Regions from separate parts of the Homo sapiens genome. Here region 1 is linked to region 2. The links come from fine-mapping of genetic effects on gene expression. Tissue or cell type: lymphoblastoid cells. Region 2 holds a variant in brackets; the other region holds the start of a gene. All regions are shown on one strand. Distances are between the middles of the regions.

What was found. PIP is the estimated chance that this variant, and not a neighbour inherited with it, causes the effect.
Region 1: ANKRD44-AS1 starts here. The variant in region 2 is fine-mapped to the expression of ANKRD44-AS1 in lymphoblastoid cells (GEUVADIS, PIP 0.95).

Annotation. Positions count from the first base shown.
Region 1 is chr2:197,194,951-197,203,137 of GRCh38, forward strand. ANKRD44-AS1 (ANKRD44 antisense RNA 1) reads left to right here and starts at 3,041. Exons shown (of 2, transcript NR_135584.1): 1 at 3,041-3,139; 2 at 3,968-4,323. All of the region lies in intron 1 of ANKRD44 (ankyrin repeat domain 44), which reads right to left. RefSeq lists an enhancer at 4,087-4,156.
Region 2 is chr2:197,915,158-197,923,344 of GRCh38, forward strand. The region is part of intron 1 of PLCL1 (phospholipase C like 1 (inactive)); the gene reads left to right. Among named protein-coding and RNA genes, the nearest start is that of PLCL1, 110 kb to the left of the region's middle. The variant GTC/G (reference allele first, on the strand shown) is at 3,779.

The DNA.
Region 1 (8,187 bases), 720 kb before region 2:
ATAGAAGATGAAGTTAGAAAAATGAATAACTGGGTGGGGGGAGCATCACATCAGCATAAGAAGCTTTAACCTAATCTTTTTGGTGCAATCATATAGCTCATTACCACCTCAAACTCTTGGGCTCAAGCGATGCTCCCACCTCAGCCTCCCAAGTAATTCAGACTATGGGCACAGGCCACTGTTAAACCTGGTGAATTTTTAATATTTTTTTGTGGAGACAGGGTCTCGCTATGTTGCCCAGGCTGCTCTTGAACCCCTGGCCTCAAGCAATTCTTCTGCCTCAGCCTCCCAAAGAGCTGGGATTACAGTCATGAGCACTGTACCCAGCCTTTACCTAATCTTATGGACAAACAGGAATGGGGGTCATGAGCAGGAGAAAGGAATAGAGTTTTCCCAAGAATTTAATCTGGCCAAAGTGTACACTGAGTACTGGAGAAGGAGAGATTGGAGTTAGAGGCCCAGTTAGAAGGCTGTTGCTACAATCCAAGCCATCACAGGAAAGAACTTTCCCATCTTTTTTTTAATCACAGTCTCCCCAGGTGCTACTTACAGGGATACGGTGAAAACAACAGATATAGTTTTTGGTTCTTTAATGTCTGCTCTATTCCTGGATGCAATTTTGGCCCAGCATCTTGGCCACTTTCCTTCACTCTTTATATATAGCCCAAATCCCTTGCCTCCGAAACACTAATGTTTCCAGGTGAAACTGAGGTTACTTCCTTTAGTTCTGGAACATTTCCATTTTTTCCCCCACAGAACCTCTGCGGATGTAAGCTCTGTTTTGTCAGACTTGTCACTTGATCGCTGAATTTAAATCATAACATTTCAAAAATAGGCCACATCCATAAAGAGAAAGGCAAATCAAAACAAGGCAGACAGCCTTTGCCAAGTGCCATATTTCTATCAGGATCTGCTGCCAACTACCCACAGATTTTTTCACTCTGTCTAGTTTCAAATGGCTTGAGATCAAACCTAAACTTTAGCTAAGATAATTAAATTGTGTTGGGGAGTTAACTTTTAAAGAAAGCTAATTTGGGCAAAAAGGACAATGGATCCAGGAGGTTAGTTCATACAGAACATTTAAATCCATGTAATTTTAGTGAAACAAAAAGAACAACTATATATACTTCTGCAACAGTTTCCTGTTTTGAAAAATTGGTATAGAGGTTTTATTTCTCATCTTGGCTTGGGTTACATTCTTTGTATAACTGTATCTTACTGCATATTGAATTCATGTAGTTGCAAACATGAGAGGTGGATTTAATAATGTTAATCAATATAAACCACTTTAGTGATCTTTGTGGGGAAAAAAGAAAAATGGCCAGAAGATGATTTTCAGGGTTGTAGGTATATTCAGTATAATTTATTTGTCTGTTCAAATAGAGACAGCAGTTCAGTTTTAGGGTGCACTGGAAAACATGACTTTTTATTACTACCTGGTATGTGCATCACTTATAAAAAAGACAACAATAAAAAAGTATTCCTTATAAAAAATAGCAGAAAATGATCCATAACTACAGAAGTATCTTCTTGTGGTCATGAGTAATTTTAATTTTTGAGAATCTCACAAATTGGAAGCTAAATAAAGCAATTCAAGTGTCCTTTAAAAACAACAACAAAATCAGCATGTAGAAATGAAAGGTACTCTCAGAAAGGTGGCAATCTCCTGCTACATTTGAGGAGGCTGGAACTACTGTATACAAGATATATGGATTAACTCAGTCACATTAAATCATTCATGATTTAGGCAACTCCAGATTGGGTTTGTCTAAAATCTGTTAGCACCTGGGTTCTTTCCAAACACCAGCAAGCAATTTTTACACAATCAGGTCTTTCCAAAGCCCATGACAATTTTCCTTTAAACCCTCTCCTTCCCTTCTACTGTTCTTTTCTTTGAATTCCACGTGCATTCTTGGAAAGACAGCAAGCAGTTAAACTCTCACCACCTCTCCACAGGTGAGGGACTAGGGACATGTGTAAAACGGAGTCACCTTCCTGTTCTGGCCATTGTCAATTTTTTTTTTCCTAAGGCATCTTGTTATAGCAACCATTCTAAAATTGTTATAGCAACCATTCTAAAATTTAAGGCAGTGGGTTGATCAGGACCTGAATTAGTTTCTGCCTGAGATGACTGGAAGGTCCCCTACTCCCTCCCCAGCCAGAAAAAGTCACATGGAATGAAAATCTATTAGAGAATCCCCTCAGTGTAGTCTTTCAGGAAGCATCTTCTCATTTCCCCATCCAAAATCATGGTAAGGACATCCAGTGACAGATGTCAAAGGGAAAGGATAAGGCAGCAGGAAGAGAGAGGAGCCTAAGAGACTGGAAAACATTCGATAATATAAAATGGGAAAATGGGAAATTCTGCAAAAAAAAAGAAGTCATATCATATTTCCTTTCACAGACACCAACCCAGTGCGTAGCTCCTTTATTTCTTTACACACTACCCCCTCCAACAGGGGATAAAAGATATGTTTTCTAAAACTTAATTTGGTACATTTCAGATAACCACATTCAATTCAACAAAGATGTATTAAGCATAAGACATTTACTGAGCATAAGAAATTCAGACACTGGAGGCCGGGCGCAGTAGCTCATGCTTGTAATCCCAACACTTTGGGAGACCAAGGCAGGCGGATCACTTGAATCCAGGAGTTCCAGACCAGCCTAGACACATGGTGAAACCACATCTCCACTAAAAATGCAAAAATTAGCTGGGCACGGTGGCGCACACCTGTAGTCCCAGCGACTCGGGAGGCTGAGGTGGGAGAACCAACTGAGCCCAGGAAATTGAGGCTGCAGTGAGCCATGCTCACACCATTGCACTCCAGCCTGGGTGACAGAGTGAAATCCTGTCTCAAAAAAAAAAAAAAAAAAAAAGAAAGAAAGAAACACAGAAAAAGAAAAAGAAAGAAAGAAATTCAGACACTGGAATGTCAGAGTCAGTCTCTCCCTTGATGAGGTTACCAAGGTGTAACAGGAAGTATACAAATACGCACAGCTAGAATGTAAGGCACAGGCCGCAGGAGAAGTGCATGGAGAAGGGAGAGAAATTGTACCTGGCCTCCTGAAAGACGCAGCCTCTGAAATGAATATTGAAGACTGGGGAGGATTTAAACAGGTAGAGACGGATGGAATGGTAAGGGACTTTCCCTTCTTCATATTCAGAAGGCTGTGAGCAGAAGCTAGGGAGCCTGAACATACACAGGGAACAGTTTCATTTGGCTGGAGGAGGGGAGAAGTGAGGTAAGCTGAGTAGTAGACAGGGATCCTATCATGGAAGGTCTTGAATACCAAGCTAAGAAATTTGAGCTCTCTTCTGTGGAACTGGGGGAGCAGTGGGTGGTTTTTGAGCAGGGGAGTGACCTAAGATTTGTGCTTTAGAACAATCACTCTAAAAATGGATTGTATGATGACCTGGAGGAAAAGGCTGGAGTGTCATAACAAGTTAGGAAACTGCAATAATAGTCTGCACAAAGGGCTCTGGGGATGGAGTACCGCTCAGTTGTCAGAGGAAGCATTCTTCTGGTGGTAATATGTGAATCTAAAAGGTAAATTTGACCGGGCATGGTGGCTCACGTCTGTAATCCCAGCACTTTGGGAGGCCGAGGCAGGTGGATCACCTGAGGCCAGGAGTTTGAGACCAGCCTGGCCAACATGGTGAAACCCCGTCTCTACTAAAAATACAAAAAATTAGCCAGGCATGGTGGCGTGCCCCTGTAATCCCAGCTACTCGGGAGGCTGAAGCAGGTGAATCGCTTGAGCCCGGGAGGTGGAGGTTGCAGTGAGCTGAAATCGTGCTACTGCACTCCAGCCTGGGCGACAGCAAGACTCCATCTCGAAAAATAAAAAATAAAATAAAATAAAATAAAATGTAAATCTAGCTCCACCTTTAATGTAGCAAGGGCTAGCCTCCTCAGGAGTGGCTGCCTACATTCAAAACGATTCTCACCAACTTCTTCCACAGGACACAGGGCTCGGGAGCAGCGCCAGCCCGACATCGGCGGAGGAGCACCGGAAGTTCTGCAGCACTGGCTTTCTTTGCTCTTCCACCTATGCAAGCTCCTTCTCTCTTGTGGCTTGCCGAGCCTGGTTAGCTCTGAGACCGGAAGTTCTGAAGTCAGCTGGCATCCTACATCTGTGCAACCTACTTCTCTCCCCATCCCACCACAGAAACCAGAGCCTCGAGGCTTTTGGCTTGGGTGCTGCCTTCACAGTTTAGGTTTTGGTAAGAAGAAAGCTTATCTTCATGTCATGAGAAAGAAAAAAAAATGTATCTTTACGTAACGAGCTGAAAGAACAAAACAAGTATACCTAAGCCAAGTACATGCTATCTTTATTTCTTTATTTCCACACTGAAATTTAGTCAGGGATAAAACTTACTTTTTTAATCACACGAAGTTTGAAAAATAGGAAGTACTATGGGAAACACCTAATGCATCAAAACCCCTGTGCATTTTATCTTTGTCTTATGTTTGCTGGATTTTAATCTTAGTAGGTTTCCTGTTGCAACAATACAAAAACAGATAAAGAAAAAACTTAATAACCTTTCCTACCACAAATGTGAACAGCCCGTGTTCTTGTTGGTAGGTACAGATACAGATATATGAGATTATCGTTATTTATTATCAGAAAATGGGATTTTACTATTTCCCACACACACACTTTTTTTGAGATGGGGGTCTTGCTATATTGTCCAGGGTGGTCTCAAATTCTTGGGTTCAAGCGATCCTCCCACCCAAGTATCTGTAATCCAAGTAGTCTGGATTACAGATGCATACCACCATGCCTGGCTTATTTCCCTCTCTTACAATTTGCAAAAATAATGATGTACTGAGGACATCCCCCAGGTCGATAGCTACAGGATTAAATCATTTCTCTTAATAACTATATATAATACTATTCCATTGTATGGATATGCCATAACATATTCAATTATTCCCCTTCGAATGGGCATTTGGGTTGTTTCTAGTTTGTACCACAACAAACAAGCCTCTATCAGTGCTTATCCACATTGCACAGAGAAGTGCTACCAGAGCCAAAAGCATTTTCTGAGTACCTACAATATGCTATTTTTATGAAATATACAAAAGAAATGTGTGACATAGTCCTTTCCTAAAAGACTGCCAAATATAGTTGGGGAAATAAGCCTAACCCACACAAAACACTTAAACTGTGTAAGACAGTACTGAACCATGTTCTACAGACCTCATGCAAATGGATGCCAAGTTGTCCTTCTGCACAATGACAGATTGGAGAGGTAATCTGGAGGTGCCTTTAGCCATAATATTCTAGGAGCCTTCTTGATTCAGAAAAGGGGAAGCATGAAAGGCTAAGAAGCCAGAGTGGTGTCTCTGGAGGAGGCAGGACTTGAACAAGGCCTGAACATGGTTTAGATGGAGGAAGGAAAAAAATGTATTTTGGAATGACAAATGAGGCAGGGCACAGCACTGACTTTAGACATGTATATGCTCAGGAGAATGTCCTGAGTTACAGCATTTCTAAACACCCTCTTCTCATACTCCTCCCACCACCACCACTCGCCAGACTCTGCTTAAAGATATAAAAAATTCCCAAGCTTGGCTGCTGCAGAACATCACACTAACACTAATTTAAAATGCACTACTTCCAGACAGCACGAGCTTGAAATTACCTCCAAATCTCTTCCTTCCCTGTCCTTCTCATGCCCTATGCTACCCCCTGCCAAAACACATACAACGCTTGCTGTGCCCTTCAAACAACAGTAGTCATTTAAGCTGCTCCTGCCCATCTGGAAAATAATATGAATAACATGAAAGAAAGCAATAATGAAGTGACTGGAATTTAGCAACCAAAAAGACCTCAGTTCTTTTGATAATCAAAAACTTTGTTAAAATGTTTACATCGACAGTCACTACAGTGTTGGTCTTTCACTCTATGTTGCAATAGTATGTTTGCAACTTCTCCAAATCCATTTAAATGAAAATATTTAATAACAAGTTTTAAATTTTATCAATTGTTAAATATGATTTGAAAGTTTAGTGTATGTCCTGATATATAGTATGCCTTGAGACTGAATATAAGTAGCTCTATGGGAAAATTCTGAAAATGAATTAGGAATAAGTAGATTAATGTGCTTTTAGTCTCAAAGACTAGAGATTAAAAAGGCATGGGTAATTTTTAACTGAGAGGTGGTGCCACAGAGAAGTCTATGATTCTCTCTTTTTCATTACCCATCCCAGTTTAAAATTAGCTTGCAGCATGTTTTTTAAACATTAGGAAAACAAGATGCACTCCCAGAATGTTCATGTGAAGGGCACGTGTGAAGACATAATCTTGACAGTCATATTACAGAAAATAAGGGAGTGAGTTACTGAGTTTTTAACAAGGAGAGTAAGTTACTGAGTTTAAATAAAACCTAATTTGCTGTGTGTTTTTATTTAGCAGAATTTTGAATGCCCGTTGCCTCCGTGGCACTAGGCAACCACAAAGGCAACTGAGGTCTGAGACAAGGCATCAGGGAGATAGGATCCTTTGGCCTCCTCTGGCCCAACTGACATAACTGAGGTTGGTTCCTTTCCTGGTATCCACACTCCCCTCTCCTCACCAACAATCCCCCTGACGTTGGCTCTGAATGATGTGGAGACCCTGTTAGTGTCGTCGCATGTTAAATCTAGATTTGGGAATCTGCACTGCACACCTTATGTCAAAACTCAGAGCTGTTGTTTTTATATTTTGTTTTTGTGTTTTGTGTTTTTATTTCAGATGCAGGGGATACATGTGCAGGTTTGTTACACAGGTATACTGTGTGATGCTAAGGTTTGGGCTTCTAATGATCCCATCGCCCAAGTAGTGAACATAGTGCCCCATAGGTAGTTTTTAATCTCTTGCCCTCCTCCCATCCTGCCCCCTTTTGGGATTCACAGTGTTTACTATTCCCATCTTTGTGTCCTTGTGTACCCAATGCTCAGCTCCCACTTGTAAGAACATTCATAGCCACTGTTACCTCATCACCATGTAACATTCCAAGGGTTTAAAATGCACAATACAATCATAGTTCTTTTGAGATCATGGTTGACTGTCCTGACAAAGGAGAACTTTTAGCTGCCCCTCCTCCACCCAGGGATAGAAGTGGACTTGGTGAAAGGCAGGTGGCCTGTGACAGCAGTGGCCTGCCCAGGCACGCAGAGGCTTGCTCTCACTTTTAGAGTACTTGGTACATTTGGCACTGTGCAGCAACTTTTTGCTTCTTGAATTGTGACCAATCAAAAATGATGAAACAAGGCCATTGAAGGGAGTGGAAAGAAATTAACTGATGCGCCAGGAGTCCTGGTCTACCCTTGATCAGTAGGTGTTACATAACGGAGGGCAAGTCACAGAGCAGGCAGAAACCTCTGTTTTCTTACCAGAAAAGATAGGTCCAAAATGATCGACTCCTCCAAGAACAATAAGGGAAAAGATGAGATTTCAGATGGAAAAAAAAAAAACCCAATAAGGGGTGGTCTAGGTGACTATAATCTCACTCTGCCAGAAGAGCTAGACGACCAAGCTTGATGCACACAGCAGGGGAAGTAGCAGGACCAAGCTGCTCAGAACTGGTCAGAGTAGTGGACAATTTCGTGCAGATCTTACAGGCCTCTTTTTTGTTTTTTGTTTGTTTTAAGATAGGGTCTTGCTCTGTCCCCCAGGCTGGAGTGCAGTGGCATAACCACAGTTCACTGCAAGCTCGACCTCCCTGGGGTCAGGTGAGCCTCCCCCATCAGCCTCCCAAATAGCTGGGACTACAGGTGTGCACCACCACACCCAGCTAATTTTTCTAAAAAATTTTTGTAGAGAGGGGGTCTCGTCATGTTGGACAGGCTGGTCTTGAACTCCTGGGCTCAAGTGATCCACCCGCCTTAGCCTCCTAAAGTGCTGGGATTACAGGTGTGAGCCACCACGCCTGGCCTTTTTTTTTTTTAAGACCTAAATGGATGCAGAAGAAATTTGGCTGATGTTTTTTGGCTGGATTGCATATCAAAATCCCCTGGGAAACTAGGTCCCACCCCAATAAGCCTGAGGTAGTGTTAGGGATGCAAATCCTAGCACAAGCGCTTGCAAAGGCTCTCCAGGTGACTCATACAGCTTCAACATACATGCAGCACTGAATCTGATTCTTCATCTCAATACCTTCGAAATCCTACTCCTTTGACCCCACAGTCCCTCTTC
Region 2 (8,187 bases):
ATTAGAGCCTAGAAGGGGTTTAATCTTCAAATCATCTGCTAACTTAAAAACAAAATTTGGAAACAGTAATGATTAACCTGATTAAAGCTGCTCTCAAGGATCAACCAGTAAAAGAAGTGATAGCGGTGTCAACAATACCACATAAAGTAGCAGGATTTGTATGTCAGCAGTCCCATTTTTCAAGATGCCAAGTCTAAATCTATTTCCTACCCATATTTAAATGAGGAGCCAGTTTTGGAGGAATTTTACTTGTCAAGTGTGAAAGAGAGGAAGAGTCAGAAGACACTCTTTCCAAGAATTCTGTGGATAAAAGGAGGGTTTTTTTTTTTAAACCAAACCTCAAAATTTTACTCTTCAGAAGGAGATTTTTTTTTTTTTTGAAGTCCGATGGCAGCAGGATGTGAGATTCCCAGTTCAGTGGTGCTGGGAGTTAAGCAGAAGAAGGTGGAGATCTTTCTTCTTCATAGCATGTGCTCCTTTCACAGAAGCAGCTTGTTAATCGTCAGGAAGGATTTCAGACAACCTAGTGATGATTTCCAGCTCAACTGCTTCCCTTCCATGAGGCACCGATACCCTATTTGTGTGTGATAAGGTGATGATTTCCCTTTCATCTCAAAGCTCTGACTCAAGTGGTTGGAGGGGCTTGGTGATGCGAAGGCTGAGAGAGATACAGAGATGAAGGATGATTTCTTTACCAATGACACTTCTTTAGGTATCTCAGTTGTTATTGTTTCTAGAATTAGTATAAGATTTTTCAGAGGACAATAGGAGAAATAGCTAAGTTAGCATCAGACAATATACCAGCTTTAGTTGCTATAACTAAGAGCCTGGTAGGCATATGTCTGTGATTGCTTGTGGTCATATTAGTGCTGCAACTTGGAGATGTTGAAACCTTCCTTTGTCCTAACCATTAAATTCTTGAGGCAAAGATTGCCTAATTCTTCTCTGTGTTTTACTTGGTAGGAGTACATTTTCAGCATTCAGATAACATTATTTTGACTACTTATCAGTAATTTGTTTCATTCCTTTTCCACAGATAATATTTGTTTTTGGTAGTTTCCAAAAATGACTGATTTGGTGTTTCAAGTATTTTTAAGCACTGGGAAAGAATATAAGTTGTTTTTAGCTTTTTATCTTTCTAGTTTCTAGGCAGTGTGGATATTCCATACTGGTTAAGATTATAGGCTCTGGACTTAAACTCTCTGGATTCAGTAGTGGCTCAGTTACTCACTAGCTGTAAACATGGGCAAGTTTCTTAATGTTCTCTAGTTTTCAGTTTTCTCATTTATAAAACAGAGATACTGATAGTATTTACATTTAGGGTTGTTGTGAGGAGGAAAGGGAATAATCCATGCTGTACACTTATATATGTACAATGCAGTCCATGCAATGGCACATAGTTAGCACTCAATATATATCATCATCATCATCATCTTCATTACCAGCAGCTGCAGCAGTTTAGAGACCAGGACAGAGTCATGGTTAAGAGAGCAGGCTTTCAGAGAAGGCCAATTCAAATTGCATACCAGATACTGCCCAAAAATAAGAGTGAAGGGAAAATCAAAGATGGACTCTGATGCCCGGTGCCCAGCAAAATGATGTAGGCTAAAAAGTTATTACCTGCTCAAATAAAAAATGGGCAAAAGAACTGAACAGATACCTCACTAAAAATATACATGATGACAAGCATATGGAAAGATGTCATTTTTGTCATTAGGGAATTGCAAATTAGACAAGATTAGGCATGTTCAAGGTAGTATGGCTGTAGATGAGAATTGCAAATTAAACAACAATAAGAAACCACTGTACACCTATTAGAATGGCAAAAATCCAAAAAAACTGACAATACCAATTGCTGGCAAGAATGCAGAGCAAAAGGAACCCTCATTCATTGCTTCTGGGAAAACAAAATGGAACAGCCACTTTAAAAGATAGTTTGACAGTTTCCTACAAAGCTAAATATAGTCTTATCACACCAGAAATTGTACTCCTAGTTATTTACCAAATGGATTTGAAAACTTGTCTACACAAAAACCTACATGTGAATGTTTTGACAGCTTTATTAATAATTTCTGAAAACTAGAAACAACAAAAATGTCCTTTAATAGGTGATTAGATAAATTGTGGTATATCATAAAATAAAATATTATTCATTGATAAACAGAAATAGCTATCAAGCCACAAAAAGAAATGGATGAATCTTAAATGCATATTGCTAAGTGAAAGGCTACATACTCTATGGTTCCAATTATATGATATTCTGGAAAAGTGACTGTAGTAATAGTAAAACTATTAGTGGTTGCTGGCAGAGGAAGCAGGGTTGAGTAGGTGAAGTACAGAGAATTTTTTAGGGTGGTGATGCTATTTTGTATGATATTGTAATTATGGATATATGATACTATGTATTTGTTAAAACCCATAGAACTTTATAGTACACAGAGTGAACCTTAATGTATGCAAATGAAAAAATAATTTAAGGGGTTGGGGGATCCTAGGATTGAATGCAGAATGTGACAAGACGATAAAAGGAACCAAGGAAAAGGAACCAAGGCTCCTTATGTAAGTGGATGATTCTAGGACTGGGCAGGAGATGTACGCGATGAACCTGTAGTATCTTGTAGTGCCATGAAGTAAGGAAGAGCTTAAAACAAAACAATAACAACAACAAACAAATCCACAAGAATGGGTTATATCAAAGGGACCCAGGAGCCAACTGAAAGAGCTTCCAATGGCCAACACTGGAACTGTTTGAGCAACAACATAAAGTAGTACTGGAACCTGCCCCACCGCCACCCCAAATAAAATAGATCCGTGAGTCCATACTGATATAAAGAGTACAGTGTGGAAAGGTGGGTTAAAGTAACTTTACAGTGGAGAAACCCAACAAAAACTAGCCAGGTGAGCAAGGTTAACCTCAACAGTGAGAAATCATTTGATAGTATATATTCTCTATACATACATATTTATCACTTGATATGATAAAAATGGCACCTTACCTCTGTTGTCTTCCTCCTCCAAACCCATAACCCCAGTCTGATCATGAGAAAAACATCAGATAAATCCCAGTTCAGGGACATGTTATATAATACTTGACCAGTACTCAAAACTAATAAGGTAATCAAAAACAGGAAAAGAATGAGAAACTATCACAGCCGAGAGGAGCCTAAGGCGGAGACATGTCAACTAACTGCAGTGTGGTTTCCTGGATGAGAGCCTGGAACAGAAAGAGGGCGTTAGGCAAAAACTAAGGAAATTAGAAGAAAATATGGATTTTAGTTAATATATCAGTAATAGTTCATTAACTATAAAAACATGTACCATAATATGTAAGATATAAATAGGAGAAACGGAGTATGGAGTATATAGGAACTCTCTGTACTATTTTCATTATTTTTCTACAGTCTGATACTGTTCTAAAAATTAAAGTTTATTATAAAAAATAATGGTCCATTTAAAAGAAGATTTTTAACAAGGGTAAAGTTGGCCAGGCACGGTGGCTCATGCCTGTAATCCCAGCACTTTGGGAGGTTGAGGCAGGCAGATAGCTTGAGCCCAGGAGTTTGAGACCAGCCTGAGCAACATGGCGAAACTCAATCTCTGCCAAAAAAATCCCAAAAAACAAAAAACGAAAAATTAACCAGGTGAGGTAGCATGCACCTGTAGTCCCAGCTACTAGGGGAGCCTGAGGTGGGAGGATCACTTGAGCTTAGGAGGTTGAGGCTGCAGTGAGCTGTGATTGCACCATTGCACTCCAGCCTGGGCAACAGACGGAGACCCT[GTC/G]TCTCTCTCTCTCTCTCTCTCTCTCTCTCTCCCTCACACACACACATACACACACAAAGTAAAATAATGACTCACATACAGATATAAAAATTATTATAGTGTTAAAAGATTTTACTTAATTCATAATGAAGGAACAAGGCAGATGCTACAACTAGTTTAAAGATAAATCCAAAGATCAGATATATTTATAGATCAAAAATATTGAAATGAACATGCAAATGGAGGCAAAACTAGCTTCTTTTGCTGGGAGGAAAGCAAGTCAGTTTAACCTCCACTGGACAGGACATAATGTGCATGTCTATAGACAAGAATTGTTTTGTATTGCAATCGGTTACCTATAATTTATAGAGTTGTAAGACAACACCCATAGGGTCAGAATCAGATACCCAGAAGGATGTTTTCTAGACAATGTATAGTTTTGTACTGAAGCACAAAGATTTTCTTACAGGGCATTTACCCACATGTCGTTTACTATCATGATGTTTTAACATAACTAAAAAAATCAAAATCAAGATAGTTATTGGAAGCTCCACCTCCTTGACAATTCTAATGATGTTCCTGTGTCTTCAAAACCCCCACTCATTGACTTCCTTTATAGTTGTCATTAGTTCTGCTCCAAAATATTTTGGCTGTCTGCCTTCCTAACACAGAGTAAGAATGCATTTCCTAGCCTCTTTGAAGTTAGGCATATGACTTGTAATCACCAATGATACAAGAGAGGAAGTGACTTATGTTCTATCCAGGAGGACATTTTAAGGGCTGGTACAAGGTTTGCTACATTTCCTTTTCCTGCCTGCATGAATGGGGAAATATGTGTCCAAATGGAGCTTCTGTATGCCTGATTCTCTGAGTGACTAAGAAGAGCAGAGCACTCTCCTGATGACCTGTGTTGACCTTGAAGCATGAATGAGAAATAAACTCATTGTATTAAGTCTCTGGAAGAAAATGACAAGTTCTTAGATTGCTTGGGTTTGAATCCTGGCTACACACCATTTACTAGTTGTGTGATCTTGGGCAACTTCCCTAACCTCTTTGTGCTTTGATTTCCTTATCTGGAAAATGAGGGTAATAATAATGCCTAGCCATAGGGTGGTCATGAAAATGAAATAAGATCATATATATTGTCTTCTGGCACAAAGTCAATAGCAACTGGGTTATTGTTTATCCATTGGTCTTTTTGACTCTGCAACTCAAAATTTATCAGTGGTCCGTCAAATTAAACTTTTGAATATGAAACATTAATCACAATGCTGTTCAGAATGGCACAGCTATTTCTGCAGGGGAGAGTGAAAGGGACAGCTGTTCCACAGACTGTCTCAGAATGCTCATTGGAAGACTTGTGTGTATCATCTTTCTCTCCAGTGCTTTTGATGTTGAGTGGTTTGTGAAACATGAAGAAACTGGACACTACCATGTAGCATGGGATGCTACATCAGTGACAAGCAGAGGACAGAGTGCCTGAGGAAGACTGAGATTTCTTTCTTGGAATTGGAAATTATTACTATTTTTCTAGCTCCTTTGAAATGGTAACTTCATATTTTGAAAAAATTATTAACCAAATGGCTGCTTCATTTTATTGTAACATTTCTGATGAGTGAAACAATTGAAATTAATGGAATGATTGCAAAATAGAGTAAGTATATAATAACATATGCAAAAGTACCTAAGGTTGCTTGCATAGGTTTATGCTGCTCAAATTATTATAGTTCTTACAGACAGTGTCTAGTGTAAAAAGATACACCTGCTGTGGTCTTGTGCCCTCTGAAGAATATATATAGAACTAAGGGTGAAATGACTTGGCATATTTTCTATAACTTTGTTGCAGCTGTTTTCCAAAAGTGGGCAAATATCCAGCATTATTTGCAAGCCAATGTAATGTTCTTTGCAAACCATGAAAGCCTTTCGTATTTTGATTTATGAGCAAGTTAATTTCCCAGCTCAATGAGAAAGGCCATGGAGATGAAATTGAATGTATACTTATGCCTTTAGTATCTAGTGATTGTACAGTCATGTGTCGCTAACGACAGGGCATTGTTAGGCGATTTTGTCATCATACAAACATCATAGAGTATACTCACATTGACAGACTTAGACGGTGTAGCCTATTACACACCTAGGCTACATGATACAACCTATTGCTCCTAGGCTACAAAGAATGCAGCATGTTACTGTACTAAATACTGTAGGCAATTATAACACAATGGTATTTGTGCATCTAAACATATCTAAAAATAGAAAAGGGACAGTAAAAAATACAGTATTATAATCTGTCATATATGAGGTTGGTTGTTGAACAAAGCGTTATGTGGTACATGACTGTATTTCTTCTGAAAATTTGGTTTATATTGAATGATAGCAAACCAGCATCTATCAGTTGCTGAGTGTTACTTATAATGGCATGGAACCTATGAAATAGGAAAACAAGAGGCACCTCTATTAATTAATAGGGGTCCTTTTCAAAGTTTCGGGTGAAAAATTACTGGTTGTGGTAAGAATGTATGCCTTGATTATAAATATTGGCGTGGAAAAATGTCCTCATACTTAATTCAGGCGGATATAAGCTTTTATAGTTGAATTAAATAAATGGATAAAAGTTCAAAAAATACAAATCAAATTTAAATAAATAAATAAATAAGCATTTCTTTACCTAATACTTGGAGAAACAAGCATACCTGTACTTACCCACCAAAATCTCTATTTTCATGACTTAATTTCTATGCACACTCCACTCTTGTTCCACCTCTGTACCTTTGATCACACCGTCTCTCTCACCTGACATACACTTCTTTGAGTTTAATGTACAACAGAAACTGCATATCTTTTCTGAAATATCAGAAAACTGAAATCCAGTTCACACTGTTATTTCTCTCATCAGAATTTTTACAACTCTTTTACTGGGTATCTCATAATATAACAGTCATGAAAACTTGTGTTATTATCTTTATATTTAATGTTTCTATATTTTCTCCTTTTGTATTTGGGTGGTGTTAGTGAAGGAAAGTGCCCTATCTAGCAGAATTCTAGGTACAGATAGAGACAAGTGCAGGTTGATTGATAAATTCTTTTTTTTTTTTTTTTTTAAATTTATTTTTTTATTGATAATTCTTGGGTGTTTCTCACAGAGGGGGATTTGGCAGGGTCATGGGACAATAGTGGAGGGAAGGTCAGCAGATAAACAAGTGAACAAAGGTCTCTGGTTTTCCTAGGCAGAGGACCCTGCGGCCTTCCGCAGTGTTTGTGTCCCTGATTACTTGAGATTAGGGATTGGTGATGACTCTTAACGAGCATGCTGCCTTCAAGCATCTGTTTAACAAAGCACATCTTGCACCGCCCTTAATCCATTTAACCCTGAGTGGACACAGCACATGTTTCAGAGAGCACAGGGTTGGGGGTAAGGTCACAGATCAACAGGATCCCAAGGCAGAAGAATTTTTCTTAGTGCAGAACAAAATGAAAAGTCTCCCATGTCTACTTCTTTCTACACAGACACGGCAACCATCCGATTTCTCAATCTTTTCCCCACCTTTCCCGCCTTTCTATTCCACAAAGCCGCCATTGTCATCCTGGCCCGTTCTCAATGAGCTGTTGGGCACACCTCCCAGACGGGGTGGTGGCCGGGCAGAGGGGCTCCTTACTTCCCAGTAGGGGCAGCCGGGCAGAGGCGCCCCTCACCTCCCGGACGGGGCGGCTGGCCGGGCAGGGGGCTGACCCCCCCACCCCCCCACCTCCCTCCCGGACGGGGCGGCTGGCTGGGCAGAGGGGCTCCTCACTTCCCAGTAGGGGCGGCCGGGCAGAGGCGCCCCTCACCTCCCGGACGGGGTGGCTGGCCGGGCAGGGGGCTGACCCCCCCACCTCCCTCCCGGACGGGGCGGCTGGCCGGGCAGAGGGGCTCCTCACTTCCCAGTAGGGGCGGCCGGGCAGAGGCGCCCCTCACCTCCCAGACGGGGCGGCTGGCCGGGCGGGGGGCTGACCCCCCCACCTCCCTCCCAGATGGGGCGGCTGGCCGGGCGGGGGGCTGACCCCCCCACCTCCCTCCCGGACCGGGCGGCTGGCCGGGCAGAGGGGCTCCTCACTTCCCAGTAGGGGCGGCCGGGCAGAGGCGCCCCTCACCTCCCAGACGGGGCGGCTGGCCGGGCGGAGGGCTGACCCCCCCACCTCCCTACCGGACGGGGCGGCTGGCCAGGCTGAGGGGCTCCTCACTTCCCAGTAGGGGCGGCCGGGCAGAGGCGCCCCTCACCTCCCGGACGGGGCGGCTGGCCGGGCGGGGGGCTGACCCCCCACCTCCCTCCCGGATGGGGCGGCTGGCCGGGCGGGGGGCTGACCCCCCCCACCTCCCTCCCGGACGGGGTGGCTGCCGGGCGGAGACGCTCCTCACTTCCCAGATGGGGTGGCTGCCGGGTGGAGAGG